Linked DNA regions of Homo sapiens. The protein of the gene in region 4 purifies or fractionates together with the protein of the main gene of each other region. This does not show direct contact. Each region holds a gene or a part of one and is shown on either strand. Other genes may lie near its edges.

Evidence for each region.
Region 1: the proteins of PSG1 (region 4) and PCOLCE2 purify together in Homo sapiens (affinity purification with mass spectrometry; one large-scale study listed by BioGRID and IntAct). This does not show direct contact.
Region 2: the proteins of PSG1 (region 4) and CELSR3 purify together in Homo sapiens (affinity purification with mass spectrometry; 2 studies listed by BioGRID and IntAct, with this or other methods). This does not show direct contact.
Region 3: the proteins of PSG1 (region 4) and FAT3 purify together in Homo sapiens (affinity purification with mass spectrometry; 2 studies listed by BioGRID and IntAct, with this or other methods). This does not show direct contact.
Region 5: the proteins of PSG1 (region 4) and SDF2 purify together in Homo sapiens (affinity purification with mass spectrometry; 2 studies listed by BioGRID and IntAct, with this or other methods). This does not show direct contact.
Region 6: the proteins of PSG1 (region 4) and MANEA purify together in Homo sapiens (affinity purification with mass spectrometry, with the first as the bait; one large-scale study listed by BioGRID). This does not show direct contact.
Region 7: the proteins of PSG1 (region 4) and LRP12 purify together in Homo sapiens (affinity purification with mass spectrometry; 2 studies listed by BioGRID and IntAct, with this or other methods). This does not show direct contact.

What each region holds. Positions count from the first base shown.
Region 1 is NC_000003.12:142,819,872-142,823,554, reverse strand, and holds part of PCOLCE2 (procollagen C-endopeptidase enhancer 2 precursor), read left to right. Parts: coding exon 1-23; intron 24-2,509; coding exon 2,510-2,677; intron 2,678-3,683. UniProt on the Homo sapiens protein: Binds to the C-terminal propeptide of types I and II procollagens and may enhance the cleavage of that propeptide by BMP1.
Region 2 is NC_000003.12:48,656,014-48,660,341, reverse strand, and holds part of CELSR3 (cadherin EGF LAG seven-pass G-type receptor 3 precursor), read left to right. Parts: coding exon 1-1,455; intron 1,456-2,993; coding exon 2,994-3,644; intron 3,645-3,976; coding exon 3,977-4,202; intron 4,203-4,328. UniProt on the Homo sapiens protein: Receptor that may have an important role in cell/cell signaling during nervous system formation.
Region 3 is NC_000011.10:92,892,174-92,897,157, reverse strand, and holds the end of FAT3 (protocadherin Fat 3 isoform 1 precursor), read right to left. Parts: 3' UTR 685-4,984; downstream 1-684.
Region 4 is NC_000019.10:42,876,254-42,881,344, reverse strand, and holds the start of PSG1 (pregnancy-specific beta-1-glycoprotein 1 isoform 2 precursor), read left to right. Parts: upstream 1-1,631; 5' UTR 1,632-1,763; coding exon 1,764-1,827; intron 1,828-3,066; coding exon 3,067-3,432; intron 3,433-5,091.
Region 5 is NC_000017.11:28,654,937-28,659,264, reverse strand, and holds part of SDF2 (stromal cell-derived factor 2 precursor), read left to right. Parts: intron 1-3,781; coding exon 3,782-3,978; intron 3,979-4,328.
Region 6 is NC_000006.12:95,580,301-95,584,628, reverse strand, and holds part of MANEA (glycoprotein endo-alpha-1,2-mannosidase), read right to left. Parts: intron 1-4,328.
Region 7 is NC_000008.11:104,582,589-104,586,916, reverse strand, and holds part of LRP12 (low-density lipoprotein receptor-related protein 12 isoform a precursor), read left to right. Parts: intron 1-4,328. UniProt on the Homo sapiens protein: Probable receptor, which may be involved in the internalization of lipophilic molecules and/or signal transduction. May act as a tumor suppressor.

The DNA.
Region 1 (3,683 bases), on a different chromosome or scaffold from region 4:
CAATTATTGTTCAAGTGACTTTGGTAAGAAATAAAAGCCAGTCTTTTTCTCTTTAACCAGAAACTTGAGGCTGCATGCTTAATCTCAAAGGAATTCCTATGAATTTATGGTGAAGGGTCAATAACGCTGCTCATTTATCCAAGAAAATACTTGCCTATACACCAGAATGGTCAAATTGTTAGATTTCACCACTGAGAAAAATATGGATTTAGAAAATATACTTTTTTCATATAAGCTTAATAATTTGACTCTTGGTACATGATACTGCCACATTGTGTGTTCTGGCTGACTATTCCTGCAAAAAACCTATGTACTTTTTTCCTTATATATTTTTCATATACAGAGTATTTTTTCACACATCTATAACTCAACTTAAGTAAATTAGAAACATACCCGAGCTTATATTCAGAAGCTGGTCTCTCTCAGAAGAAATTCAAGTATTTCCCCTGTACTGCCTTTCTGAGGTACTGAAGTAAAAGTTGGAAATCTGGAGTCCATTTGGAAACTCTCACAAACTGGAACCTGAGGAGGTGTTCTTTAATGATTTAGAATTTTTAAGAGCTTTTTCCAGTGGAAAGATTGCACCATCTATGATAGCTACTTAAGAGCAAAAGATACAACATTTTATCTTGGTTATTTTTTCAGTGGCTTTAAAGGAACATTTAAGACAAATCTGATCAGGAAGAGCAAGTTGCTATGGCCTAAATACATTTCCCCAAACAAAACTTCCCCAGAGAGGCTCTGCTTGCTTTTTCTGTGCCTTGAAGTGACTTCTGTAGTCCAGACGAGCTGTATCATAGTGAAGGTGTGAAGACACTGAAGACTCTGGGACCCTAAACCTTACTAGAGTTCACATGCTGAAATTCAAATAACTGGCATAAATGTGAAAACAACGCCACATGTAATTGCTACCACATCCAGTTTACTCTTCTGTAGGAGGTGCTTCAGGAAGTCTCCCTCCCTGTGTCTTGGGAGCCACTGATTTCACTTGACTATAGACTGAATTTTGGAGTGAACACTTATCACGCAGGATCAAAGTAAAGCATCATAGGAATTCTGATTTTATGAACATTGCACACTGCCTAAGCAGTGAGTGTTCACTTTATTCTGAAGGAGTCAGATTAACCAAGTCCAAAACTTGATTTATTCCATTAATGTGACCGCTTACATGGCAAAATGACCAAAACTATCATCAGTCACTGGTTCTCAACCAGGGCTGATAATGCTCCCCTGGGGAGTGGTAGAGATGTTAGATTACTGCATTTTTTTGGTTGTCACAATAACTAGGAACTGCTACTGATTTTTCTAGGAAGGACAAGGCTGGTAAAAAATGTATTCAGGCCAGGTTCAGTGGCTCACACCTGTAATCCCAGTACTTTGGAGGCCGAGGCAGGTGGATCACCTGAGGTTGGGAGTTCGAGACCAGCCTGACAAACATGGAGAAACCCCATCTCTACTAAAAATACAAAATTAGCTGGGTGTGGTGGTGCATGCCTGTAATCCCAGCTACTTGGGAGGCTGAGGCAGGAGAATTGCTTGAACCTGGGAGGTGGAGGTTGCAGTGAGCTGAGATTGTGCCACTGCAGTCCAGCCTGGGCAACAAGAGCGAAACTCCATCTCATGAAAAAACAACAACAACAAAAAAAAACTGTATTCAGTGCAAGTCCTACACCACAAGGAACTGTCCTTGCTCAAGCCCCCAGAATGCCAGGCGCACCCCCGTGAGAAAGACAACATCTTTCCTTCTGTGGCTTCAAAGAGAGACTCTTTTCTCGGAGTGTCATGATGGAAAAAACAGGGGTTTACATAATGAAAAAATCAACTGAATTTTACTAGAGGTTTTTTTTTAAGAAAAAAAAAAGTTTAAGTTAATACCTCAGTTCTATACTTCAGCTTGTTAAATGAAATAAACGGAGTGGATAAGAAAGAGAATATGAAAGACCGTAGAAGACAGAGCTTTCCTGATAATTAGACAGAGGTGAGGACCCAGGGAATGAACAAAAGTTCAGGAAGAAAGGACAGCTACAGAGAAGGGTGAGGAGAGACACAGAAAGGTGGCTACACACCCACACCGACACAAAGACTCACATCTTAGTGGCCCAAACCCCCATCGCGCAATCTTTTAGCGTGGTACTGCCTCTAAAGATACAAGATCTTTTTGAGTATTCACAGGTAGAGCCTCATAAGCCAGACTATCCCCTATGTGACAATCAAGCCACAAGTTGGATAAAACGTTTTAAAGAGTTTCAACCTTGGCAATGGACCGCAGTGTGGCAAGTATTTAGGCTTCTCTTCTAGTTATCAATCCCCAACAACCAGCGTAACATCACAGCTCCAACCTGAATTTTGGTGACAAATGTACAGAAGCAAATGTGAAACCTCTATGAGGGCCTTTTCTTTAACATTAAAATGTTTCGTATCTGAAACTTAGAAGAATGTAAACTTGTTTTTCAGTTCTGCTTGCATTTGCCTTCACTGTCACATCACTTCAAAATGTTTTCTTCTGCAGTATTAGCCGGCACTGTTATCACAACCATCACTCGCGATGGGAGTTTGCACGCCACAGTCTCGATCATCAACATCTACAAAGAGGGAAATTTGGCGATTCAGCAGGCGGGCAAGAACATGAGTGCCAGGCTGACTGTCGTCTGCAAGCAGTGCCCTCTCCTCAGAAGAGGTGAGTAGGGAGAAAACTGGGTGTCTCTGAGCAAGCCATGGATTTTCCATGCCATGGTTGGTCTAGGGAAGTAAAATCAGGGCTAATATGTTGCCCACTTCTTGCAGAGCAGGAAGGCCTTTGGAGTCAGGCAGAATTGGGCTCTCATCCAAGTCCTTGTAACTTGTGGCAGAAGAAGGGGTAGTGGACATGATGAACAAGTGAAAGAAGCGTTTGAAGTTGAGTCAATAGGCAACAGACACACAGAGCAGTGCAGGGTGGAGAGATTTTAGACTATTGCACTTAAGATGCCAGTACTGTCTAGGTTTAAAGAAAAATATCCAGCAGCCAACAGGAAATGCAGACCCGAAGTTCAGAAGAGGGAGGTATATCCGGGCTAGAATCAAGATCTGGGAATCATTTGCAGAGATAGGACTATTAAGTCCATGGATGGGAGTGAGTTTATTGAAAGAAATTACGAAAAACGGAAAGTTACTCCAGAGCTAGAGGCACATGACTTTTTAAGAATATGTATTTAACAACTTATAAAAGTAACATATGTTTCATGGTTTTTAAAAAGTTGAAATAAGTAGGTAAGAGTATGTTTAAAAGTGAAACCCTTTTCCTTTCCTTAGAAGTACTCTAAAAAGTTCCTTCCAGCCAGACACAGTAGCTCATGCCTGTAATCCCAGCACTTTGGGAGGCCGAGGTGGGAGGATTGCTTGAGCCCAGAAGTTCGAGATCAGGCTGGGTGATGTAGTGAGACCCTATTTCTATAAAAAAAAAAAAAATTTAAGTTCCTTCCAGAAAGTTTCTATCCACATAAAGCATGGGCATATACACTTATGGAATCATATCACACACAAGTTCTGCAATTTTTCCCCTACATAAGCTCTAACATCTTTCCACACATACACACAGAGAGAGAGAGAGAGAAAGAGAGAGAAAGATACAGAATATCCACTTCAAGAAAGCTTTACTGTCCCAGCACTTTAGGAGGCTGAGATGGGAGGATTGCTTCAGCCTG
Region 2 (4,328 bases), on a different chromosome or scaffold from region 4:
TGAATGAGGATGCAGCTGTGGGCACCAGTGTGGTCAGCGTGACCGCAGTAGACCGTGATGCCAACAGTGCCATCAGCTACCAGATCACAGGCGGCAACACCCGGAATCGCTTTGCCATCAGCACCCAGGGGGGTGTGGGTCTGGTGACTCTGGCTCTGCCACTGGACTACAAGCAGGAACGCTACTTCAAGCTGGTACTAACTGCATCTGACCGTGCCCTTCATGATCACTGCTATGTGCACATCAACATCACAGATGCCAACACTCATCGGCCGGTCTTTCAAAGTGCCCACTACTCAGTGAGTGTGAATGAAGATCGGCCAATGGGTAGCACCATAGTGGTCATCAGTGCCTCTGATGATGACGTGGGTGAGAATGCTCGTATCACCTATCTCCTGGAGGACAACCTGCCCCAGTTCCGCATTGATGCAGACTCAGGAGCCATTACATTACAGGCCCCATTAGACTATGAGGACCAGGTGACCTACACCCTGGCTATCACAGCTCGGGACAATGGCATCCCACAGAAGGCAGACACTACTTATGTGGAGGTGATGGTCAATGACGTGAATGACAATGCTCCACAATTTGTGGCCTCCCACTATACAGGGCTGGTCTCTGAGGATGCCCCACCTTTCACCAGTGTCCTGCAGATCTCAGCCACTGACCGGGATGCTCATGCCAATGGCCGGGTCCAGTACACTTTCCAGAATGGTGAAGATGGGGATGGAGATTTTACCATTGAGCCCACCTCTGGAATTGTCCGTACAGTAAGGCGGCTAGACCGGGAGGCAGTATCAGTGTATGAGTTGACTGCCTACGCAGTGGACAGAGGTGTGCCCCCACTCCGGACTCCAGTCAGTATCCAGGTGATGGTGCAGGATGTGAACGACAATGCACCTGTCTTCCCAGCTGAGGAGTTTGAGGTGCGGGTGAAAGAGAATAGCATTGTGGGCTCAGTGGTGGCCCAGATCACTGCAGTGGACCCTGACGAAGGCCCCAATGCCCATATAATGTACCAGATCGTGGAGGGGAACATCCCTGAGCTGTTCCAAATGGACATCTTCTCTGGAGAACTGACGGCACTCATTGACCTAGACTATGAGGCTCGCCAAGAATATGTGATTGTGGTGCAGGCCACATCTGCTCCTTTGGTCAGCCGGGCCACTGTGCACGTCCGCCTGGTTGACCAGAATGACAACAGCCCTGTGCTCAACAACTTCCAGATCCTCTTCAACAACTATGTATCCAACCGTTCAGACACCTTCCCGTCGGGCATTATTGGGCGCATCCCAGCTTATGACCCCGATGTCTCCGACCACCTCTTCTACTCCTTTGAGCGTGGCAATGAGCTGCAGCTGCTGGTAGTCAACCAGACCAGTGGGGAGCTGCGACTCAGCCGAAAGCTAGACAATAACCGCCCACTGGTGGCCTCCATGTTGGTGACTGTCACAGGTGAGGGGCAGGGGGCAGGCAAGTGACCCAGTGACACCAACCTGTTGGGCCTCAGGGACTCCACAGGGCACCTCAAACCAAAGAGGGATTTCTAAGCCTTCCAAGAACCCCTTAAGGGTAGGGTTCCTGCACCCTACAAGATCTGCCACAGACCTCACAAGGACTCTGCTTAGGTTCCTGGATAATCTCCACAGAATCCCAGTGATTCCAAGGCATCTAGCAGACCCCATAAAGCCTGTAAAGAACTGTCTGCTACCTAGGGATATCTCCCCTCCTGATAAAAGGTCAGAGGTCCTGGGGTAATCCTCTGGAGGTCCTAGGCAAAGCCAGTATGGGCCAGTCAGTCCACACTATGCCCATGTTCAGACGAAGGGTTACTTTGGGTCCAGTCTGACGCTTACCCTATCTGTGCAGGAAATGACCAATACTTGAGTGGTCAGGAACAGCAGCTTACTATGGAAGCTTCAGGTGGACAGTGGCTTCGTAGGGCCTGAGACCCTGACCTTTGGGAAAATGTCCAGAGGTCCACTTGCCTCTTTCCTGCCCCATCTGCTCCAGTCTTTCAGAAACCCCTCCATAATAGGAGAGTGCAGGTGGGAGAGGCTCTTGAAGTTCTGCCTACTGGAGGCTGCAGAGGTTGGGAAATAGGCTTCACTGGTGCTCATTCCTCAGTTCTGGAGCAGGGACTCCTGGCACTGCCTGAGAAGGCACAACCTTCATTTATCCCTCAACTCACTCAACAGTCTATCCTTATTGACCACCCAGTATGTGCTAGGGTGTGGGGACAAGACGAACAAGGCAGCTAAGCACCTCACCTTCATCTCTGGGGTGGTCACTGTGAAACCACAGGACCCAGGTCTGGAGTGGCGAGCAGGCTGCTAACTCAAGAATGCTGGTGTGTGTGTGTGTGTGTGTATGTCAGGGTTCAAGACCCCCCTGGAGCTTGATAACCCAGGATTCTGGAGGATGGCATTGAGTCTTCACTGGGCCAGGGCCCCTTCTAGTGTCATGGAAGAGCAATTTGCTGACCAAAAATAGGAGATAGGTGATCCCTGATCTGGAACCCTTCTTTTCTGGAGGGGGATGTTTTGCTGGTTCTGCTATGCTGGAGGAGGGGAGAAGGGAAAGGTGGCTGGGAATGAGTGGCCAGTGGCCCTAGCTCCTCTCTGTGTCCTGAGTTGGGGTGGCCTGCTGACCATGATAACTTGGGGAAGTGTGGGTTACTGAGTACTTAGGGTACTTGAGTGCTGTTGCGGGAGTGACTTGCTAACCCATGGGCACTGTGTGGGGTTGCTTGATCCTTGGCCCAGACCCCTCCGTGTATTGGGGATTGGGGGAGGAAGCAGCAGCTTTTTGACACCTTGATGCTGGGGGAGCTGGTGGTCACTAGCCCCAGACTCCCTTGTGTCCTGGTGGGGTCAGCCTGCTGACTTAGAGGTTCTGGGGGCCTAGGCTATCGCTGGCCCCAGCCCTCTTGTGTCCCAGGGAGGGGTGGCCACTGTCCCCAGGATGACCACTGCCCCTGCCCCCGCCTGCAGATGGCCTGCACAGCGTGACGGCGCAGTGTGTGCTGCGCGTGGTCATCATCACGGAGGAGTTGCTGGCCAACAGCCTGACCGTGCGCCTTGAGAACATGTGGCAGGAGCGCTTCCTGTCACCGCTGCTGGGCCGCTTCCTCGAGGGCGTGGCTGCGGTGCTCGCTACGCCCGCTGAGGACGTCTTCATCTTCAACATCCAGAACGACACAGACGTAGGGGGCACCGTGCTCAATGTGAGTTTCTCGGCGCTAGCTCCACGTGGGGCCGGGGCGGGCGCTGCAGGGCCCTGGTTCAGCTCCGAGGAGCTGCAGGAGCAGTTGTACGTGCGCCGGGCGGCGCTGGCGGCTCGCTCCCTGCTCGACGTACTGCCCTTCGACGACAACGTGTGCCTGCGAGAGCCCTGTGAGAACTACATGAAATGCGTGTCCGTGCTCCGCTTTGACTCGTCCGCGCCCTTCCTGGCCTCGGCCTCCACGCTGTTCCGACCCATCCAGCCCATCGCTGGCCTGCGCTGCCGCTGCCCGCCCGGATTCACGGGAGACTTTTGCGAGACCGAGCTCGACCTCTGCTACTCCAACCCATGTCGCAACGGCGGAGCCTGCGCGCGGCGCGAGGGAGGCTACACGTGCGTCTGCCGCCCGCGCTTCACCGGTGAGCAGGGCGCCGGGCCAGAGCTGGGGGAAGCACGGGCCAAGGCTGGGGGCGGGACCACAATGCGAGTGAGTACTGGGAGTCACTTCTGAGGCCACGGCCTGGTATGGACGCGCTTAGGCCAGAAGCCGTAGAGCGTGGCCGGAAGGGGCCGCCGCCGAGGCAGCGATGAGACTGGGGAGGGGGCGGGGCCAGACGGAAGGGGCGTGTCCACCGAAGAGGGCGACCTTTCGGGGGTCTTGGCACCCGGCCTCTGGGCGCGCGGTCTTTGAAGGGGCCGGAGCAGGGGCGGGCGTGGGCGTGACCGCCTCTGACCGCGGCTTGGCCCCCAGGAGAGGACTGCGAGCTGGACACCGAGGCCGGCCGCTGCGTGCCGGGCGTCTGCCGCAACGGGGGCACCTGCACCGACGCGCCCAACGGCGGCTTTCGCTGCCAGTGCCCGGCAGGCGGCGCCTTCGAGGGCCCGCGCTGCGAGGTGGCTGCGCGCTCCTTCCCGCCCAGTTCGTTCGTCATGTTTCGCGGCCTGCGGCAGCGATTCCACCTTACGCTGTCCCTCTCGTAGGTGCCCGCCCCGTGTCTGAGCGCCTCCCCGCCGCCCCCACCTACCCGCCCTGACTCAGATTCCTGACTGCCCCGTCCTGGCATCCCCATGAGACACCGCCCCTCCCCTGACGCCCCGCCCGG
Region 3 (4,984 bases), on a different chromosome or scaffold from region 4:
GGGTGGGCAGAGGCAGAAGAAAATCTGCGCTTAAGTGTACCTGTGCAGTTCAAACCTCCCTTGCTCAAGGTCAGCTGTATCAATTTGAGCCCTACTCCCTGTCTGTAACCTCTTCTGTGTATATTTTAACAGACCTTCACTCCATATGGAACATTTTCGGGAGCTTTTTGGAGGAAAACTCAATTGTGCCCCAAACCTTTGGAAAACTTTTGGAAAAAACCTTATTTATTTATTTATTTATTTTTGAGGGAGAGGAGTGCTGGAGCTGCTGTCTAGAAGAGGTGGGGATGTGCTTAGATTTCCACAGATGTAGGACTCGATGATCTTTATTTGTTCAAGCCTCCAGCACTCTTTTCAATTTTCCCACCAGGGAAAAAATCTCACAAGGCGTGTGCTCAGTAAGAAGTTACATAAGATTTCAACATGTGTACCAGGACAGATAGAAGTTTTTCTGGAGGTAAAAAGTCTCAGGGGGTTGGGGAAGCCACACTAACACAACAAAACTAAAATGTCCCTGTCAGACCAGAGACCCCTCTCTTTGAGAGGTAGACTAGGGCTAAAGAGCTTTTTTGCTCTGTACCACGTCTTTCTACCATGCCCTGTGGAATACACCTCTAAATACCATGCGAGCAATGAACTAAAGACAAAGAAAAGGAAACACTTAAAAAGAGTCAACACAATTGCTAGTTTCATTTTTTTCTTTTTACTTGAAAACTTGTTTTAACCATCAAATTTTGGCAGTTACAAACCTGTACACTGTTGTGTTTTTTTTTGTTGTTGTTGTTTCTTTTTTTTGGCTGTCTTTTTTTTTGTTTGCTTTTGTTTTTTTTTTCTTTTCTTTTCTTTTTTTTTAGAAAAAGAACACAAGACTGAATACTGCCACCAGCAATATATGCAGGAACAATCCATTTCCTTAAGGGACAAAATCCACTCTAAGTGTTAGCTTTCCCCTTTGCATAAGGTTTGGTGTGTGATGTGTGTGCAAGTTGAGGTGAATGTGCATGTATATGAAGAAATGGCATACCTCATTGTGATTCTGAAATTGCATAAAAATAAAATACTTAATAACTGGGCAAAACACATTCTTTTTTACAAATGTCAATAAAGACAATTTTTCTTGAAAACAGAGAAAGTTAAATGAAAACAGTAAGAACCAAAGAAAGGTTACAGTACATTTTGAAATGAGTAAAAAACATCATTTTCAAATCTAAAATCCTTGTGTGTGTGTGTGTGTGTGTAGTTACCTCAAAAGTTTGCAGACCAACAGCGTGGATGACTTACAATTATATTCGACCCCCCAAATTAAAGCATCCTGATAGGCATCAAATATAGTATCTACAAAAGCCTGGAAAATTGAAACCATTTATATACAATTTTATAAACATTTCAAACACCAAAACATACATCTTTTACAAACCAGCCTGTTTGCAACAGGCAAACGTACAAGACAATCTCTCTGATACAGTGCTTAAAAAGAACTGCTTCCATTTCCAAACACATTTGCCACTCCCAAAATGCAGTAGTGTGGGCTCATAAGATTGTTAAATAGTAGCAATTCAGTTATTTGTTTGCCAGAAGGGTACTACAGTACATACTAATTGGTCCAAACACGCTCCAAATGACTCTACGATTCTCAAGTGCATTCTAAACACTAGAAGAGACTAATTATGGCCTTTGTGTATTATTACCTACTTGTAATTATTGCTTTTCATTATTACATAAGGAAAGAAATATCATATTCTTTTCCTATCTCTTAGCCAGCTGGCTAAATATTAATTGATGCCAAACCCACAAATGGTGACTTTAAACCCCAGCATTACACAACCAGAAGCTCAAAGACATTGTGGATTTTCATCAGAATAATGTGCAGTTGAACACTGTGGGACACAAACCAGCAAAAACATATAACCACCTTCTCACAGAGCACACAAAATGATGACAAGGAATAAATGCCTCTTCAAATCTCCATTTCCCATAGTTTGAAACTAAAAACATAAAACATTAAAGCCTAACCACTTTAGCAATACCTGTGCACTGGGAAGGCAGCGGAGTGAAGAGCCAATTATCTGGACAATCCATGCAAAATGAACACTAGATCTTCCTGAATTACTTCACATAAAACTGTTTTCTGGATTTTAATAATTTATTTTGATAATCTCTTTTCTCAATTCCCCTGACTTTGATGATGCAAACATAGCATCAGTGGGGGTAGTGGATAGGGTGGGGTGGGAAGTAAGTAGGAGAGGACTGATGGTAGATATGTTCAACTTGCTTTTTTTCCAGAATGTGCTAGTAATGTCCAAGGGAAGTTCCAGGCAAATCCCAGAAACTAGTTCCCTTTCCAGCCTTTCACATTTATTCCCTAATTGGATGAACCTCAAAGCATGGACCACCTACTCATGTTCCTAAGTCTTTTATATGGCATTTCATGAATAGGCAGGCCAAGGGTACATGGAAAGCTGGCATAGACTAGAATGCAGCAGCAAAATATTCATAGAGGAAAGGGAATAAATGAAGCATGCATTTTATTCACCTTTTATTACTCCCAAGTTCTTGCTTACTATATGACGAGCACCAAGAGTCTAGCTATTCTCAACCTAACCAGAATGTGTGCAATACTAGTAAAGTGCCTACAACAGATTATGGGAAATGGCTTCCAGGAGGTGGCACATACATGTTCGAAAAATGAGAAAGACATTAATTGATTTAAATAGTTTCCACATGGTTCATCATGGTGGAGGGGGTAGGACAAAGAGTAGCCAGTGTTTGTGGGAAGAAAAAAATGCAAAACCAAAACCAAAAATGCAACCAGTAGGTAACAGTATAATCAAAGTTTCACTACAACTGATGACTGGTCTGAGCTGAACTCTGTAATTATCATTTCATCCCTATTATACAAACATTCATTTGGCAAAAGCAGCATTTCGATGAATGTCTACAGAAATGTATGAATTCTATAACCCCTCTCCCTAGGGGGACTGCAAGGAAACATAAGATCATGAGGCTTTCAGAAAAATATTCTCCATGAATTTTCTTTTATAGCATATTCCAAAGAAGGAATGGTGGAAGTCAGAGGGTCCATCAGAACCAGGTGACTCCCATGCTCAAGGCAGTGTAGGGGTGAACAATATGATGTAAAAAGAATATTGGCTAGATGGATGGGTTCTACTCCTTGTTAAGCGAATTAACTTCCTCTGTGGGCTTGGGCAAGTCTCTTTCCCACTCTGGGTATGTTTCCTCTTTGATAAAATAAGGAGTTTGGACTAGCAAATAGGATTCTTCCAGCTTTTTTGAATTAGTGATCATCCCCACCTAGTAGCATCTTGGCCTGACTGCAAAGCATTTCATAATCTACAGAGAAATCTAACTTTCCAAAAAGTGAAGAGATATCATGTGTTTAAAGATAATAAATCAAAACACAATACATGCTTGCCTGGTATATATTTAGCTGCAGAGCTATTCTGCAGAAAATCAGGGGATGATATCCCAAAGAAAGAGATATTTTATATAGGTCACAGCAAAGGGTGGGCACAATTTTCTTCAGTGGCTTCATGACTGCATTAGGATCTATTTATTCTTTCATTACTGTGTCAGTCAGGCATTCTCCCTCAAAGAGATGCTGTGTAAGCAGTAGGGACTCATCAGCATTAATCTCATTCTAATATTTCCTGGGGGCAGGAAATGACATGTTGGTTTTACTTTGATGGTTTTTATGTCATTGCATTACTTAAAGTGTAGCAGTCACTCTATTCTAGGCCATTAGTTTGTCATTTTTTTCCATGATTCTTGCAAATGTGCTTCTTACATAAGAAAAATACCAAAGACTTTGTTCTCGAAAGCAGCCTTAGTGAAATTCATTTATTTCAAGATCACAGTGTGGATAATACCTCCATGAGTAGGTCTGACCAAGAGACAGGAAGAGAAAGGCTGGAAAACTTGTGAAGTGTAGTGTATCCACTTACTTAGAAAGTTTGGGAATGAAAAAGGATTTTTTTTTTTGCATAAACATTCAGAAACACTGACTCATAAAAAAGAAGTGGATTAAACGCAATTGAAATAACTAAAAATATGTCTGAGTGAATAATGCACAGACTAGGGACAGTACAATTTACACACCAATGCCATATGTCATCAGAAACTGTGGACACAGATTTGCTCATTAAGCAGATAGTGCAAATATGCATATATTTACCATGGCCACTGCACAGGCGGCCGTAATCTGATTGAAGCAAAAAAGGAAAGTCCCTCAACCTGTCAACTTTCAGTTTTGAGGACTGGATTGTTATATTTCCAGTGGAATGATTCTCCTGTTAATTTTGGAAATCATGGCCAAAGCCCACAGATGAGAAGGGAATCCCAGGGTGTAATCAAACATTACACACTTTTAAAACAGAGGTAAGTTCTGGAAAATTATAACAAAATACTGTTTTTAAAAAGCACAGTTTTGGGCTGGGCACGGTGGCTCATGCCTGTAATCCCAGCACTTTGGGAGGCCACGGCAGGTGGATTACGAGGTCAGGAGTTTGAGACCAGCCTGGCCAACATGGTGAAACCCCATCTCTACTAAAAATACAAAAAATTAGCCAGGCGTGGTGGCACACACCTGTAACCCCAGCAACCTGGGAGGCTGAGGCAGGAGAATCGCTTGAACCCAGGAGGTGGAGATTGCAGTGAGCTGAGATCATGCCATTGCACTCTAGCCTGGGTGACAGAGCAAGACTCTGTCTTGAGAAAAAAAAAAAAAAGCACAATTTTGCTTTATTGGCAGTACCAAAATAAAGTTAACTGAACCAGAGTAAAATATGGCATTTGATGTTTCTCTAACACCATAGAGATCAGAGAAATTGAAAGGTATGCCATGCTCGCCGGCAGAATTTTCAACATGGTCCATTTCCCAAAACCTTCACATTAGCTTTCCTCAAGAGCAGCCTTACTGAGTGCAAGCACATATTTGTACATAGGCCCAGACACACACACACTATTA
Region 4 (5,091 bases):
CTCTACAGGGTCACTTCTGCCCAAGTCCTCAGCGCCCTCCATGCTCCCCACACGGACACTGTCAGCTCCTCCCTGACCTGGCGGCCGCCAACCTAACACCACTCCCCCTGCAGGTAGCTCCTCCCCACACACCTGCTCCTTCCCTGGGCCCAGCTAAAGGCATCTCCCAGGGCAGCGCTGGTGCACGCGATGCCACACCGGGTGCTTTCCCCTCGTGACCTCCCTCCATCCTCATCAACTCTTTCTGGCACTGCTCCCTAAATGCCCACCCCTGCTCCATCTGTCCTGTTCTCTGGGGCATCCCAGGCCAAGCCTAGCGCTGACACAGAACAGCGGCTGCCTGAGGGCCCACAGCCTCCCCGGGAATCAGCCAGGCACCCTGTGACCTGCCTGCCCGCTGCACCCTGGGGGCTCAGAGCGCGTGTGATGGTCACACACAGGCACCATCCGGGATGTGGCCACCTAACACCAGCTGTCCCTTGGGAAGACAGACCTCTCCTGTGTGCTTGCGGGAAGAAGGGGAATGTTATTGCTCTTTGATCTCAGAACACAACTCACCCCCACCCGCCCTCTCAGGTGAGAGCAATGTCCCTCCAGACAGGCTCTCTGGCCACTGCCTGTTCCTCCTCTACACACAGCAGCTTGGCCAGGTCAAAACCATCAGGACAGACCCCTGGGTATGTCAGCATATGGAGGGCTGAGCCCATCATGGCCACGGAGTAAGTTGGGATGAATCTCTCCAGCTCTGAACCCCTGCTCTGTCCCAGGCTCCCCCTCCCGCATCTCAATGAGCCATGTCCCGCAGGGTTCCTGGGTAACTCCCCACTTCCTCCTGCACCACCACAGGGAAGGTGTGGTGACCACAGGACAGTCAGCTGGGCAGAGAAGAGAGGACATCAAAGATGGTCAGGAAGAACATGAGAAACTATGAGCTCCAGCTCAGCCGCCAGACCCCAGGGAGCCATAGACTGACAGAGAACTGTCCCTTTGACTATGGGACTCACAGCCCCCACTGAGCAACCAGCACAGGCCTCTCCTCCCAAGAGGCATGAGAGATTCACCCTGCACACCGCCAGAAAGGACAGTTTCCTCTGGGACACCCAGGTCCTGAATGTCCATCCTTGGAAGCTGCAGCCAAGCTAGACATGATTAGAGAAAGGAAGGGTCCCTCTCACCAGGCAACACACAGCTCACCCACAGCACAATGGGGCATCATTCTGACAGGGACCTGGTACAGCTCCAGCCTCCTGCACTGAAGGGGAGAGCCTGATGGGGATGAAAGAGGCCAAAGGGCGTTAATTTGCACCCCGACCCAGAGCCATGGGGACACCAGGAGGCTGAGGCCCAGGACTGTTCTTGCCCAACCTGCAGGGTATGTGTCTGACTGTGTGGGTCTGTGTGTATCTCTTCTGTGTGTGTGTGTGTGTGTGTGTGTGTGTGTGTCTGTGTGTCTGCACAAAGTGTGTCTTGAGGTTTGGTGAAAGAATCACTGCTGAAAAAGGCAGAGGCCGCCACAATTCCCAGGGACCTGAAACACAGACAAAAGGAGAAACAGAAGGAGGGACAAGGAGGCAGGACTTAGAGAGGAGGGGACAGAGAGGTGTCCTGGGCCTGACCCTGCCCATGAGCTTGAGAATTGCTCCTGCCCTGGGAAGAGGCTCAGCACAGAAAGAGGAAGGACAGCACAGCTGACAGCCGTGCTCAGAGAGTTTCTGGATCCTAGGCTTATCTCCACAGAGGAGAACACACAAGCAGCAGAGACCATGGGAACCCTCTCAGCCCCTCCCTGCACACAGCGCATCAAATGGAAGGGGCTCCTGCTCACAGGTGAGGAGAGAACTTCCTGGGAGAGGACAGGAGGAGGAAGCAGAGTGACTGGATGGGGTCTCCTGGAGAGGATGGGGTTCTAAAAAATGAAAGAAGCCAGCACTTTGGGAGTCTGAGGTGGGTGGATCATGAGATCAGAAGTTCAAGATCAGTCTGGCCAACACAGTGAAGCCCTGTCTGTACTGAAAATACAAAAATTTAACCAGGTATGGTGGTGTGCTCCTATAATCCTAGCTACTCGGGAGGCTGAGGCAGGAGAATCACGTGAACCCGGGAGGCAGAAGTTGCAGATAGCTGAGATAGCACCACCGCATGCCAGCCTGGGCGACAGTACAAGACTCCATCTCAAAAAAAAAAAAAGAAAAAAGAAAAAAAGGAAAGAAGGCTCTGTTGGAGCCTGGATAGGGGAAAATACACCAGAGAGGGACAGGGGTCAAAACAGGAAAGTCGTATTGGACCGGAATTGGTAAGAGGTAGGAAAATCTTAAGTGTTCTGTTTTCCTGATTAATCATCAGGGGCCACCATATTTTGAAAAATGATAATAATAACTATAGCAGATGACACCTCAAATAAAAATATAAACAGGGCAGGAAACACTGTCCTCAGCAAGAAACCTCAACAATTGGGGGAAAAAAAACACCCAGGGCATGGAGGGCCCTGAGAACTCTCACATCTACAGGAGTCTGCAGCCTGTTCCAGGCACTGGGGTGCAACCAAGATCACAAAAGTCCCTGTCTTCACGGAGCTCACGCTGTCATGGGGGGGAAGACAGACATGCAAAGAGATCTAGAATGTGAGGTCAGGTGTTGACAAGAACCCTGGAGGGAGCAGAGCAGGGAAAGGTCAGAAAGGGAAGACCCAGGGTCTCTGAAGCAGGCATCAGGAAAGAAGTCTAACGATGCCCTGATGTAAGCAGGACCTGAGGGCATTGTGGAGGGGGCCATGCGGACCCCTGGGGAAGAGGATTCCAAACAGAAAAATGCCAACGTCAGAAGTGTTGAAGGAATGGGCGTCATGCTGCTGACCTTGACCTAGTAGGACAGTAGGACACACACACATACACACACACAATCACACATGCCGCTTTTGTGTGTGTGTGTGTGTGTGTGTTTGTATGTGTGTGTGTGTCTGTGTTGTCAAGGCTGAGGACTGAAGAGACCTTCTCAGGACCCAGGGCCCCATGTTTTCACACCAATACATAGGTCTCAATATTGACTGATGTTCTCTCCACCTCCTAGCATCACTTTTAAACTTCTGGAACCTGCCCACCACTGCCCAAGTCACGATTGAAGCCGAGCCAACCAAAGTTTCCGAGGGGAAGGATGTTCTTCTACTTGTCCACAATTTGCCCCAGAATCTTACCGGCTACATCTGGTACAAAGGGCAAATGAGGGACCTCTACCATTACATTACATCATATGTAGTAGACGGTGAAATAATTATATATGGGCCTGCATATAGTGGACGAGAAACAGCATATTCCAATGCATCCCTGCTGATCCAGAATGTCACCCGGGAGGACGCAGGATCCTACACCTTACACATCATAAAGGGAGATGATGGGACTAGAGGAGTAACTGGACGTTTCACCTTCACCTTACACCGTAAGTGATTCCACATGATCCCTGGGTGTTGGGGGACAGGGGTCACTTCTACTTCACACACACAGGATTGTCAGGCCTGGACTCTGCCTGTGTCACTCACTGCGTTATGTCCCATGCTGGGATTTGGGCATTTAGTGCAGGACACACACAGAGGAGACAAATTTCAACAGATCAGAATTCCTTTCCTGCATCCAGACCCTGCAGACACTCGCTGCAGAGGAAGGACAGTCTGATGGGGGGACTCAGCAGGAGGAGATCAGTCTCAGCCAAGCACCTCATGCCCTCTTCATAAATTTGACCCTGAGAAAGACCCTGGATAACTGAGTAGGGCTTGGCCTGAGGGGCCCCCTGAGATACTCTCAGAGAAGCTCAGCCCTAGAAGCCTCAACCCCAGACCCTTGTCCCTAAATCCTTGTTCCAGATAAAGCTGAGGAGCCTGTGCTGGGACTGGGTTGTGGCTTCTTGGGCAGGGCTTACTGGGACCAAGGATTTACCAGCTGTCAGAGGACTGTGTCTCCTGGAGCTGTTCACCAGCCAGGGCTCAGCCCTCAGAGCCTCATCTGGGCCAGGACAGAGCTTTCTTCACCTGATACTCAGAGTGGAGAGGACAGAAAGACAAGCTTTGTAGGCCATCACCCAACTGCCTTAGGAGGCTTAGGATAGTCCATAGAAAGACTAATGTCCCCAGAAGCAGAAACAGAAGAGAGAAGATGTACCAGGTAGCAGCTTGTCCACAGGGATCTGACGTAAAGGTGCTTTCTCATGGAAGCAAATTAATAATAAATGCTGTTTGTGTGAAACCTCCACTGTGCCAAGCATTAGGTCAGGTGACTGTGAATAATTTAACATTTATTCACAGATAGCATGAAAAGCCACAGTCCATTTGCCATTTAGCTTATTTGATTGAGAGAAAACTGAGGCACAGGAAGGCACAGTGACTGAGCAAGAGTCACACAAACACAAAGGGGAGATCAGGGTCACATGAGGTCTGTCTGTAGCCACAGGCCCATCCTCTACTCCACCAGAAGTGAGGGCTTACTGGGTTCCAAGCACCCCATAGTCATTTGTTGGCTCAAATCCTCTCTTCTTAGGCATCCAAACCTCAGAGGAGTGAGAGCAAATGGTCAGCTGATTAGTCTGCACTCCAGAACTAAATCACCTGCTTCAACCATCAGAGTCAGTGCAAAAAAATGTCCAGGCCTCCTCCTCAGATCTTAACCACCATCACTGAACCTGAAATCCTGTGTTTCCCAAAGTGTCCTTGTCACTGTCATGAGAGGATCAAGGAGAGGACCTTGTTTTCTTTCCCCACTCACACTCTACACCACCACAGGCCCAGCGAGAGAGACACACACTCAGGAGCTCTCACATGACAAATGAAGGAATGGAATGAAGAAATGAATGATCCAAAACCTCTTTAGAGATTGGATCTTGGATGCAGAATCCTAGGAGGTTCTAGCCACACCTGTCCCTTGTCCTTCAGAGGCTGACATCCATGTTTCATCCCCCCACTACCTCTTGCCCCTAAAGCCACCCCACCTCATGTAATTCTGAAGCTCTTAAGCCACCGGAGGGTTCTCGAGGGCTCCTTGGTCCTGGACTATGGAACTGGGGGCACCTGGTCCCTGGAGTTTCTGAAGACAGTGTCTCCCTCACTGC
Region 5 (4,328 bases), on a different chromosome or scaffold from region 4:
CTCTGCCCAGCCGCCCCGTCTGGGAAGTGGGGAGCGCCTCTGCCTGGCCGCCACCCCGTCTGGGATGTGAGGAGCGCCTCTGCCCGGCCGCCACCCTGTCTGGGAAGTGAGGAGCGCCTCTGCCCGGCCGCCCATTGTCTGGGATGTGAGGAGCGCCTCTGCCCGGCCGCCCTTCGTCTGGGAGTTGAGGAGCACCTCTGCCTGGCTGTCCCATCTAGGAAGTGAGGAGCGCCTCTGCACGGCCGCCCCGTCTGGGAGGGGAGGAGCGCCTCTGTCCGGCCTCCCATCGTCTGGGATGTGAGGAGCGCCTCTGCCCGGCCACCCAGTCTGTTAAGTGAGGAGCTCCTCTGCCCGGCCACCCTGTCTGGGAAGTGAGGAGTGCCTCTGCCCGGCCGCCCCGTCTGGGAAGTGAGGAGCGCCTCTGCCTGGCCGCTGTGCAGTCTTCCAAGTGTGAAGTGACAGCCTTTCTGCAGGTGTACCCAACAGCACCGAAGAGACAGCGACCATCGAGAATGGGCCATGATGACGATGGCGGTTTTGTCGAAAAGAAAAGGGGGAAATGTGGGGAAAAGAAAGAGAGATCAGATTGTTACTGTGTCTGTGTAGAAAGAAGTAGACATAGGAGACTCCATTTTGTTCTGTACTAAGAAAAATTCTTCAGCTTTGGGATGCTGTTAATCTATAACCTTACCCCCAACCCCGTGCTCTCTGAAACGTGTGCTGTGTCAACTCAGGGTTAAATGGATTAAGGGTGGTGCAAGATGTGCTTTGTTAAACAGATACTTGAAGGCAGCATGCTCGTTAAGAGTCATCACCACTCCCTAATCTCAAGTACCCAGGGACACAAACACTGCGGAAGGCCGCAGGGACCTCTGCCTAGGAAAACCAGAGACCTTTGTTCACATGTTTATCTGCTGACCTTCTCTCCACTATTATCCTGTGACCCTGCCACATCCCCCTCTCCGAGAAACACCCAAGAATGAACAATAAATACTAAAAAAAAAAAAAAAAACTACAGGTAGAAACAGATGAAGGCCAGGCATAGAACTTTGGATAATCCCAAGGTATAAGGATTTGGAGGAAGAAGTGAACGGTTGAATAGAAAGCAGAAAATGTAGGAGACAAAATGTAGACCATGGTTTAGTGAAGCGTGGCTGTGAGGACCCAGAGAGCTGTAAGGCAGTAACCAGAAGTAGGAAGGGAGACTTGGTTTGCCTTTTCTGAAAAAAGATATAATAAAGTCATGAAAGGAGCTGATAGTTGGCTACATTTACCCGTGTAACTGGCAGTGACACAATTACGACTCATTGCAGCCTTGACCTCCTGGGCTCAAGCAATCCTCACATCTCAGCGTCCTGAGTAGCTGGGACTACAAGTGCACCCCACCACACCTGATTAATTTTTTGCATCTTTTGTAGAGATGGAGTTTTGTCAGTTGCTTAGGCTTGGTCTTGAATTCCTGGGCTCAAGCGATCTGCCCACCTTGACCTCCCAAAGTGCTGGGATTGACGGTGAGCCACTGTGCCCAGCTTCTTTTTTTTCTTTTAAATATAAAAATTTTTTTTTAGGCTGGGTGTGGTGGCTCACATCTGTAATCCTAGCACTTTGGGAGGCTGAGGCAGTTGGATTGCTTGAGCCCAGGAATTCGAGAGTAGCCTGGGCAACATGGCAAAAACCCATCTCTACAAAAAATAGAAAAATTAGCCAGGTGTGGTGGCAGGCGCCTGAAATCCCAGCTACTTGGGAGGCTGAGGTAGGAGGATCACCCGAGCCTGGGAGGTCAAGGCTGTGGCGAGCTGTGATCGTGCCACTGCACTCCAGCCTGAGTGACAAGAGGGATCCTGTATCAAAAAAAAAAAATACATATATATATATGTACGTTTAGAGACTGCATTTTGCTATGTTGCTGAGGCTAGTCTCGAACTCCTGGACTCAAGGGATCCTCCCCTCACCTTCCCAAAGCGCTTGGATTACAGGCATGAGCCACTGTGCCAGACCTCCAAGGATACATTTTTTGTTTTGTTTTTGTTTTTGTTTTGAGACAGAGTCTTGCCCTGCCACCTAGGCTGGAGTGCGGTGGTGTGATCTCGGCTCACTGCAACCTCCGCCTCCCGGATGCAAGCAATTCTTCTGCCTCAGCCTCCCAAGTAGCTGGGATTACAGGCACATGCGACCACGCCCAGCTAATTTTTATATTTTTAGTAGAGACGGGGTTTCACCATATTGGCCAGGCTGGTCTCGAACTCATGACTTTGTGTTCTGCCTGCCTCAGCCTCCCAAAGTGCTGGGATTACAGGCGTGAGCCACCGTGCCTTGCTTAAATAATACGTTTATAATAATTGACCACTTATGGGAGTTGGGAGCTGTAATGGCTGCTTAAAGTTGGCAACATAGTCTCATTTTAATTGTGAAATACAAAAATTTTTATCATAATAGTTAATGAACATGAATAATATTACAAACATGTTAAAATTATGTGATTAGACACATTAGGGGCTATCCAGGCTAGTGTGTATAGGTTACCACTGCCTGTGCCTCAAAAAACTCACATAGATTTGTGCCTTGGATATCCTTTGATGCAAATTCTTAGAATTTTCTGATATGACATACCCTTAAGTATACTTTATCATATAGTAACTAGTATTACGTGGACACAGTTTATTTATTTATTTTTTTTGAGACGGAGTCTGGCTCTGTCATCCAGGCTGGAGGGCAGTGGCGCGATCTTGGCTCATTGCAACCTCCACCTCCCGGGTTCAAGCGATTCTCCCACCTCAGCCTCCCAGATAGCTGGGATTACAGGCTGCCACCACCACACCCAGCTAATTTTTGTATTTTTAGTAAAGATGGGTTTTTGCCATGTTGCCCAGGCTGGTCTTGAATTCCTGGGCTCAAGCAATCCAACTGCCTCAGCCTCCCAAAAAGTGCTAGGATTACAGGTGTGAGCCACCACACCCAGCCTAAAAAATTTTTTTTTTATTTAAAAGAAGAAAAAGGCTGGGCACAGTGGCTCACCATCAATCCCAGCACTTTGGGAGGTCAAGTTTCACTCCCAGAGTGCTGGGATTACAAGCGTGAGCCACCACGCCCAGTATGATTTGTATTTTTTATAAATATTTTAATGTTGTAGAAGAAAAAATATTGCCAAGCATAGCATTTTTCTCCCCACCCCTTCTTACCTGTTTAATGACACGGCACAATATTGGCCATAGGCAAGAAGGGTGAGGCTGAGCTCACTTGCTGTTTTTTTTTTTGAGGAATGGGTACCAAATTTATTTGTTAATTTCTTGCATTTGAAGTACACAGTCACATCCTTGGCCTGAAATTCTTTGCTGTAGCCCTTCACTGTGACACAACTGCAACCAACCACTTTACAAAGTTTTCCTTGTCTATCAGTTTTACAAAGGCTTAGCCATGTCTCTGGTTTCTTAAGGTCATCAACCTTAATTGGGTTGATTTGGTGTTCGGCACAAAGGGCCACCCCTAGCTTGACATACATAGGCTCTTCACATTTGGATGCAAGCACGCAAAGATGGGCTTGGCCCTTGTCTAAGGCTTTGGCAGCTTTGCAGGTTCCACCTGCTAGGCCATCATGGCTGAGGGCGGTCTTCAGTCTCTTGTAGAGCAGTATTAATATCCATTACACCTCCAGCAGCGTGTCTTCCTTGGTCATGGTGGTGGGTTACAGGTGAAGGTGAATCTTGAGCGCACTCAAGCTTCTGTCTCTGAGCATGTTGTCCATGGCAGAGAAAGAGAGTTGCCTTTCTTTTCTTAACTGCAGGTAGTGGGCAGCAGTCAGTGACAGGTGTAACCTCTGTGGATGACAGCAACAGTTACTGGAGGATACGGGGGAAGAGTGCCACAGTGTGTGAGAGGGGAACCCCCATCAAGTGTGGCCAGCCCATCCGGCTGACACATGTCAACACTGGCCGAAACCTCCATAGTCACCACTTCACTTCACCTCTTTCTGGAAACCAGGTGAGGTGGCTTTCGATGGATTGTTGCTGCTCTGCATTACTCAGTGGGTGCTTGTTTGATCTCTTGGTTCTTAAATGTTTCTTTTCTAGGTGTAGATGTTCTCTTTTGTGCAGACCTGGGGAAATGGCTCTATTTTTGTGTGGGTTTTTGTTGTTTTTGAGACGCAGTCTCACTCTGTCACCCAGGCTGCAGTGCAGTGGCATGATCTTGGCTCACTGCAACCTCCGCCTCTGGGTTCAAGCAAGTCTCCTGCCTCAGTCTCCCAAGTAGCTGGGATTACAGGCGCATGCCACCATGCCTGGCTAATTTTTGTTTTTATTTTTATTTTTTTGAGATGGAGTCTCACTCTG
Region 6 (4,328 bases), on a different chromosome or scaffold from region 4:
TCTGGGGAAACAGGAGAAAAGGCAAAACAGAACTACTGGTAAGGGTCTATGTTCAGCTGTGCACCTACTGTCTTGATAAACATCTTAAACAACAGAAAACAGGGTTCGAGAGCAGAGAACCAGTCTGACCTCAAATTCACCAGGGTGGGGTACTGGAGGAGACCAGGGCGTATCTCAGTCCTTATCTCAACCGCATAGGACAGACACTCCCAGAGCGGCCGCTTATAGACCTCCCCCGAGGAATGCAATTCTTTTCCTAGGGTCTTAATATTAATGTTCCTTGCTAGGAAAAGAATTTAGTGATACCTCTCCTACTTGCACGTCCATTTATAGGCTCTCTGCAAGAAGAAAAATATGGCTCTTTTTGCCCGACCCCACAGGCAGTCAGACTTTATCGCTGTCTTAAAAATCGCTGTTACTCTGTTCTTTTTCAAGGTGCACTGATTTCATATTGTTCAAACACACGTTTTACAATCAATTTGTACAGTTAACACAATTATAGTGGTCCTGAGGTGACGTACATCCTCAGTTTACGAAGATAAGAGGATTAAGAGATTAAAGTAAGACAGGCATAAGAAATTATAAGAGTATTCTTAGGGAAGTGATAAATGTCCATGAAATCTTCACAATTTATGTTCCTCTGCTGCAGCTCCAGTCAGTCCCTCCGTTCGGGGTCCCTGACTTCCCACAACACTATTCTACATGTATTTAAGAAACACTAAACTAACCAAGTATATTTCTTTAACAGCTAAAATCATAAGAATTATTTTTAAGGTTAATCTTGTTTAATTGTGAATAGTGAATAATATAAAGAATAACATAAAAGAATAGTATAAAAGACATGTCTAGTTTAAAACATATAAAGTAAACATTCAAAAAGAAATCTGCCAGCTTAAAAGCTCCTTTCCACTTCTCGTGCTCCCTCTGAATCACCAGTCCTGCCCTTCTCCCTGCCTAAGGGCAACTGCTTGAATTTTGTGTTTACCATTTCACCTCTTCTTTCTTTATAGTTTTCCCACCGCACACAAGCATATCTAACTAAAGTTAACTGTATTTTGTCTGTTTCAAACTTTAAGTAAATATGGTGTGTGTACATATATACGTCATATATGTATATATGTATACTGTATATACGATATGCATACTGTAAATATATCAAGGCATGCAGGTACATACATAAACGTGTGTATGTGCATATGTACACATACATGCACATATATGTGTATTTACATATTGTGCATCTTATGTTATATATGGATACATGTCATATATATTTAGATATAAATATGTATGATTATATATACATAATTAAATGTATTTAAATTTATAAAACTCTTGGGAAACAATATTAATTACTAAATCTTTTCTGACACTTTACCTGGTATCCTAACTCTTACCCATCCCTGCATTCCATCACATCAGTTCCCTCCCTCTCTAATAAAAAGCTATGTAAATGAACTTTTAGTAAAGGAATAGGTAGACAGGTCTGGAGATTTTGTTTTAATAACTATATACATACTGACAAAATGTTCCTCCAGAAGATATCTAATTAATTACAAATGGGGAAATAATAACAGTGGAAAACCTACCAAAACACCAATTTAAACTAGTGATCAAAATTGACTTTATCAGTTAATTTGGATAAATAAGTATGGCCATTAGTCTTCAGCGAACCCGTACTGAGAAAAACACAGAATCACTGCTGTGGTACTCTTGTTAAAAATTAATCCAGATCTAATCACGAGGAACCATGAGACAATATATTAAAGAGAGGATACACACATATACATAAATACACACATATTCATACATATATGTACACCACATACATACACTATATATAAAATGTATGGCTTACATACAATGCAACGTATAATAAGTAAGGGTATGTGTGTTTGTGTATAATGGTAAGCAAATATGGTAAAATATTACCATATGGTGAATATGCAGGAAAAGTAAACAGAAATTGTTTGTGCTATTTATCCCAGCAGTAAATAGAAGAATGTGAGCTGTTAACATACCTGCTTATTTCTGGAAAGGGCTAAGTCACAAAGTCTTTCAAACCCTGCACTACATGACTCTGTGAAGTGAAATTTCTACATGTGAGCTGTGGCAGTCCTGTTGCACTAACAGGTATAAAAGGATGGGCTGGGCGTGGTGGCTCACGCCTGTAATCCCAGCACTTTGGGAGGCTGAGGCAGGCAGATCACGAGGTCAGGAGATCAAGACCATCCTGCCTAACACGGTGAAACTCCATCTCTACTAAAAATACAAAAAATTAGCCAGGCATGGTGGTGGGCACCTGTAGTCCCAGCTACTCGGGAGGCTGAGGCAGGAGAATGGTGTGAACCTGGGAGGCAGAGCTTGTAGTGAGCAGAGATCGCGCCACTGCACTCCAGCCTCGGCGACAGAGCAAGACTCCGTCTCAAAAAAAAAAAAAAAAAAAAAAAAAAAAGATGATACAACCATTTTGGCATGCCACTGTAATTTGTTGTCCTGAAATTTTCAAATCATTGACATCACAACAAACATTTCCCTTTGATTGAAGAAAGGGAAAATTTTGATGAGACATGAAGCAAAAATAATATTTTGGATGTAATATATCAACTACTATGATATATAATATCATATCTGTATTAAAGATACACATAGAAGGAAATATACTTAAACATGTAAAATAGTTATGTCTGGATGAGACAACAGTGATATTTTCTTACTCTGTTTTCTAAAAGTAGAACATAATACTTCAGAAGGAAAACATTTGGATAGGTATTCTATAAGGAAAAAAACAATGGTAATGAATGTTGGAAGAGTTACAGAGAAAGGAGAAATAACTAACAGATTTATAAATTAGTAAGGCATTCATTTTTGAAACGTTGACTTCAGCTGAATGGCGAGATTCATGAAAGATCAAGATATATAATAAATCTTAAGATGTAAATTCAAATCAGTCACACTTAGTTGTGTGATCCTGGGTAAATCACTTAGCCTTTTCTTAAAAAAGAGGGTATCTGTTTTGCCTACTGATAAAACTATTCTGTGAATCATGCAAGACAATTTGAAACAGTAATGTTTTAATCAAACAGTAAATACTAATGAATTTATAAATAAATGAAAAGTGAAGAAATATTGGAAACTCTAAAAAATTTCTTAGGTTCATTTTCTGGATACACTCATGAATACAAAGCACAAAATGTCCATTTATGGAAGCTGTTTTTTTTTCTCTCTCTCTTGCCTATGAATGTAATTTCTTAAGCTGATCCTCTGTCTTCTCATTTTACATTACTTCATTCATTCAATTAAAATGTGTGTTTATCACATCATTATAGATGACACACAAGCTCAATTTTAAGAGATGATCTGCTGGCTCTGGCTCAACCTCCATGTCTCAATTAAGTCATCTCAACCTAAATAAACACAGATGGGCATTGAGATTTAAAATATGAGCTCTGTAGTTCAAATGCTTGAGCTCAAATTCCAGCTGTGCCATTTTTTAGTTATCTGACCTACAAAACTGACCTGATCTTTCTGAGTTCCTTTCCTCACCCATAGAATGAGTTATTACTTCACTCATAGGATTTTTGTGAGGATGAAATTAGTTAATATTGTAAAACTCTCAAAATCATGTGGCTTAGTATAAGACTAAATAAATGAGCAATTGTTTATGATGATGATTAAAGATGGGTGTCCGACAAGCAATTAAAATATAACACATTTTATTCTAAATGCCTATTCTCTATATGACCAACTATTGAAATACCAGTCACCTTCAAGTCAAAGTTGAAATGCTGCCTCTTCTTGATACCTCTCCTAATTCCACAGTGAAAAGTACTTATTCCTCATATATTTTATTGTTAACAGTATTTACTTTTTAAATTGTCATTTCTTTTTTTTTTTTTTTTTTGAGACGGCGTCTCACTCTGTTGCCCAGGCTGGAGTGCAGTGGCACTATCTCCGCTCACTGCAAGCTCCGCCTCCAGGGTTCATGCCATTCTCCTGCTTCAGCCTCCCGAGTAGCTGGGACTACAGGTGCCTGCCACCACGCCTGGCTAATTTTTTGTATTTTTAGTAGAGATGGGGTTTCACCGTGTTAGCCAGGATGGTCTCGATCTCCTGACCTCGTGATCCACCCGCCTCTGCCTCCCAAAGTGCTGGGATTACAGGTGTGAGCCACCGTGCCCGGCCAAATTGTCATTCCTTATGTATTATATCATGCTGTGCATTTATCTTTATATCACCTACTAGATTGCTCCTTAAGTTTCAGAAATGGAGTCTTTATCTTCACATTCTAGTAGAGCATAACATATCTTTCACATAGTGTTCATTAA
Region 7 (4,328 bases), on a different chromosome or scaffold from region 4:
GCAGATTATAAAACCAGCAGGTGATTATGCCAAAGGTTGATGTCTCAAGCCACAGCAGGTTTCAAAGTGTAAAAAAAAAAAGGAGGTAGTGAACCAGGCAGAACATTAAACTATATCAGCAGAGATTAAAGGGAACCCTTCACCCTGGAACTGAGAAATCCTCTTTATGGCTGCATGTTTTTTGTCCTCTTCTGTCTCTAACCATATGTGGGTTTATAATAGTGAAAAAGGGCTGTAACAATAGTATGGGGTGGATGTGGTTCTATAACAATAGTGGGAATTGAGTAACTTAGAATATATAGTAGTTGTAATGGGTGGTGGATGCATCCTGAGAAATAGCTGTCGCCTTGAGCCTGTTAGAACAGATACTAGCTGTAATTTATGAAACTGTCCTCTATACAGTAAAAAGTGTGTGTGTGTTTTAAAAGGCTTCAAAAATAATTAGCTCTGTTAATGAAACTGAATATTCACAATCACTGTTAACAAAGAAAAGCAGGTTGATTGGCCAATATTTAGGGAACTCCAATATTAATTCTTCACAGAGTGACTCTTAAATGAAATGACTCTAAGGTGTGCTTCAGATTTTTGAAACATTTCACATACATAAAAAAATTTTTTGTTGTTTATTTTGGTGCTACTTTCCAGATGACGATTTTATGGGCTCTGATATGTGACTGTTGTACTTCCAAATTAACTTTTCTGAATGCCAGAGTCTTACCTGAAACTCTAAATTGTAATCTAGAATATAATGTTTTCTAGAAGTAGTTGTTCAAGGACCTGTAATTATCTTTCAGGGGCTACTGTATCTTAACCGCATTCAATGTGCCTAAGAGTTAGGAGAGAGTAAAGGTTGACCTCTGCCACCTTTGAAAGTTTGAAGGGATAAAAATATCAGTGGTGACAACCACAAGCTTTGCTACGCATTGTCCTAGGCTTACTGTAAGAGGAAAAAGTGCTTTGTCATTTTTCACATAGGGATGTCTCGCTTTTACAAATCTATGGGAGTTTCCAAAACCTCTGTCTCCTAGTCAATAGAAGCTGTTAGTCTTGCTCACCTCCTAAACCACAATTTGGTAATTCTGACAGTTCCGTTGCTTTATCCTTTCCACTTCTGTTTGTCTCCCAGATTAGTGTTTCCTAACTTTTACTCAAACCCACCCTTAAAATACACATTGCTTCGGGTACTATGTACATAGAGAAAAAAGTTAATGAAATCGTACTCTTAACTACCTGTGCACTCAGATGTTTTCTATTTATTCCTCCTCTTTCTCACCCTTCCCTTCTTCATTTGCTGGTCTGGACTCATTAAATAAATTTTGGATCCACTAATAAATTGCAGTCCTTAGCTTGAAAAACACTACCCAAGATGAAGCCTTAAAATATAGTTTAGAGGCCAGGCGTGGTGACTCAAGCCTGTAATCCCAGCACTTTGGGAGGCTGAGGCGGGTGAGTCTCCTGAAGTCAGGAGTTTGAGACCAGCCTGGCCAACATGGCGAAACCCCGTCTCTATTAAAAATACAAAAATTAGCCAGGTGTGCTGGTACATGCCTGTAATCCCAGCTACTCAGGAGGCTGAGGCAGGAGAATCACTTGAACCAGGAAGGTGGAGGTTACAGTGAGCCAAGATTGCACGATTGTATTCTAGCCTGGGTGACGAGTGAAACTCTGTCTCAAAAAATAAATAAATAAATAAATGTAATTTAGAATGTTTCTTGTTTGTATATCATTTTACAATAAACTTCAAGAGTTGCAGATGGTTAATTTTTGGTTACTTGCTGCCAGAGCATTTGATAGTCGTAGAACTGTTCACAGCATATACTGATTGACTTGTGATAAAATTCATTTTTAAACTGGTTTTCAGCTTATTACAGTCAAGAGTCTTTACTGTTCACAGTAGTATTCTAGATGTTGTGGTAGCCTAAAATAATCTTTTTACTTTGCATATATGTAATGGATGAATCTTTTCCCATGAATTTTATGGAATGTTCAGTAGCACTTAATAACTGGTTTAAGGGTAGACAAGAAATTCCAATTTTAGAAAGGTTGTAGAAGTAACTGGAACATGAGGGAAAAATCTAAACCAGATACCAATTACTTCTTACAAAGTCAAGTTTGATTACATAAAATGTGTTGAATAAAATTGAATTAATTGCTTAACATAAACCCTTCCTTGAGTTCAGAATCTAAATTATATCCATATCCTTGGGAGAATATGAAGGTGGGCAGCACATTCCACAAAATTCTAGGTGGTTATCAGGGCAGAAAGTATTAAACAAGCACTGTTAACTGTATTCTAGATAGAGTATGGAGGAGATTTGAATGATGTATGGTAAATGATTTATAAGGTTCCTAGAAAGTAAAATTTCTTTTGAAGAACATAAAAGGGATTTTAGCCTGAAAAGTGAGCAGCAGTTAAAGAAAATGTTGAGATTTACTTTTGTAATTAGAAAATTTAAAGCTTATTAAAATATTAAGGGAACAAGAGGGCCTTTTTGTGTTTCTGATATGAGATGTTGTTCCTTTTTTTTTTCCCCACTTTACCAGTGATACCACAATTTAAGGGGTGAAAGTTCAGTAAAAATATATATGAAATATAAGTGAGAATTATATAGATTTAAGTAAACATAGAATATTTTTATTTTAGATATTAATCCTGTTCTTACTGCAAGTCTTTATAAGAAGAGGAAGGTTGTTCTAAATTTAGGAATTGGAAGTTGATGATCTCTAATTTCTAAGGTTACCTTTCTTTTCTGTTTTTCTTCTTTTCTCCTTATCACTCCCTGCTTTTTGAGAGAGTTAAGTAATAGATGTACATTATTTATTCCCATTTTCTAAAATTTAGGATTAGATCCTGCAAATACAAATTACCAATGTATCTATTCAAATACATGTTATCAGAGTCTCTTCTTTTTAAGTATATATAAATATATTATTTCAATACTGTATTAGCTTAGGGAATTCTTACTGTCTAAGTTATAGAAGGGAAGGAAGGAAACTAACATTAAATTAAGTTTAATAGCACTTATTTACTTACAAGTACTTAATACTTACATTGAAAGATGCGTGATTAGTCTTTATTTATTGCCAATTAATCTTTAGTAGGTCTTATTTGGCAATCCTGTCAGATATGTACTCTTTCTTTTGTTTTATGGAAGAGAACATTGAAACACAGAAATATTGTGACTTAACTGAAGTCAAACCAGTATGAAGTAGTAGAGTCAGGATTGTAGCCTAACCCTGGCTGTCTCTTCACTTAGTTCATTTAGCAAATATTTATTGAGCCCTTGCTTATGTCTAGCACTGTGTTAGATAAAACCTGATGCACATAGTTTCTGCCCTCATGGAGCTTATAGTCTAATGAATAAGTTGTAATAAGTGCTCTCAAAGAAACAGACATGGGGCAGAGATAGTGAGTAACAGGCACAGAGTAATTAGGGGAAGACTTTTTCATGAAGGGACGTTTATGAGACCTAAAGCATAGCTAACTGTGTTATGGTTGGGTAAGAAAGCTTTACATATGAGAACAATGCATGAAAGGCCCAGGATCAGGAAAGAGCTGGTATGTTGCAGATAAATTACTAAAAACACTGTAACTGGAACATAATGGTTGTAAGGGAGAGTGACAGGATGAGATTAGAGCAATACTTAGAAACTCTAGGATTTAGAATCCATGGTAAAGAGTTTGGGTTTTATTTTAACTATTTAAGTGACATAATGTGATTTATGTTTTGAAACAGTCACATTTGCTACTATGTGGAGTATTGTTGTGAAGTGGGAAACAGTAGAGATGGGATGATCAGTTAGGAGATTTTGGCTGTAATCCAGGTGAGAGATAACAGGAGCTTGGACCAAGGTAGTAGTAGTGGAGATAAAGGAGTGTAGGTTGCCCTGTTGATAGAGATAAGGGGATTTTTCCTCTTGCCGTAAGAGGTAAAGAAGAAAATATTGGTGCAAGTGTACTTAGGTCTGTAGGTTTTGGGGTGGGAAGGTGGACATTACATCTGATCGTTCTTATTTTCTCAAAGTAATATGACATAAGATCATCAGTGAAGAGGAGGAATGAGAAGTTGAGGGTGATTTTTGTTCCCTCAATTCAGTAGAATGGTTTGGACGCTTAGCAAGTTAGATTTCTGTTATTTAATCTAGAATAGAGAAGGCTATGAACACTATACAAGCACATATATTATGAATAGTTGTACAGCAGATGACAGGAAGAGATGGACTTAAATTACAAGGGGAGGAACCTTAAGAAGGGTTCTGTGGAGAACTCAGTTCTGAGGGCAGTCATTTTGTCAATGAAATAAGTATAGAACATAACTTTTTACAAT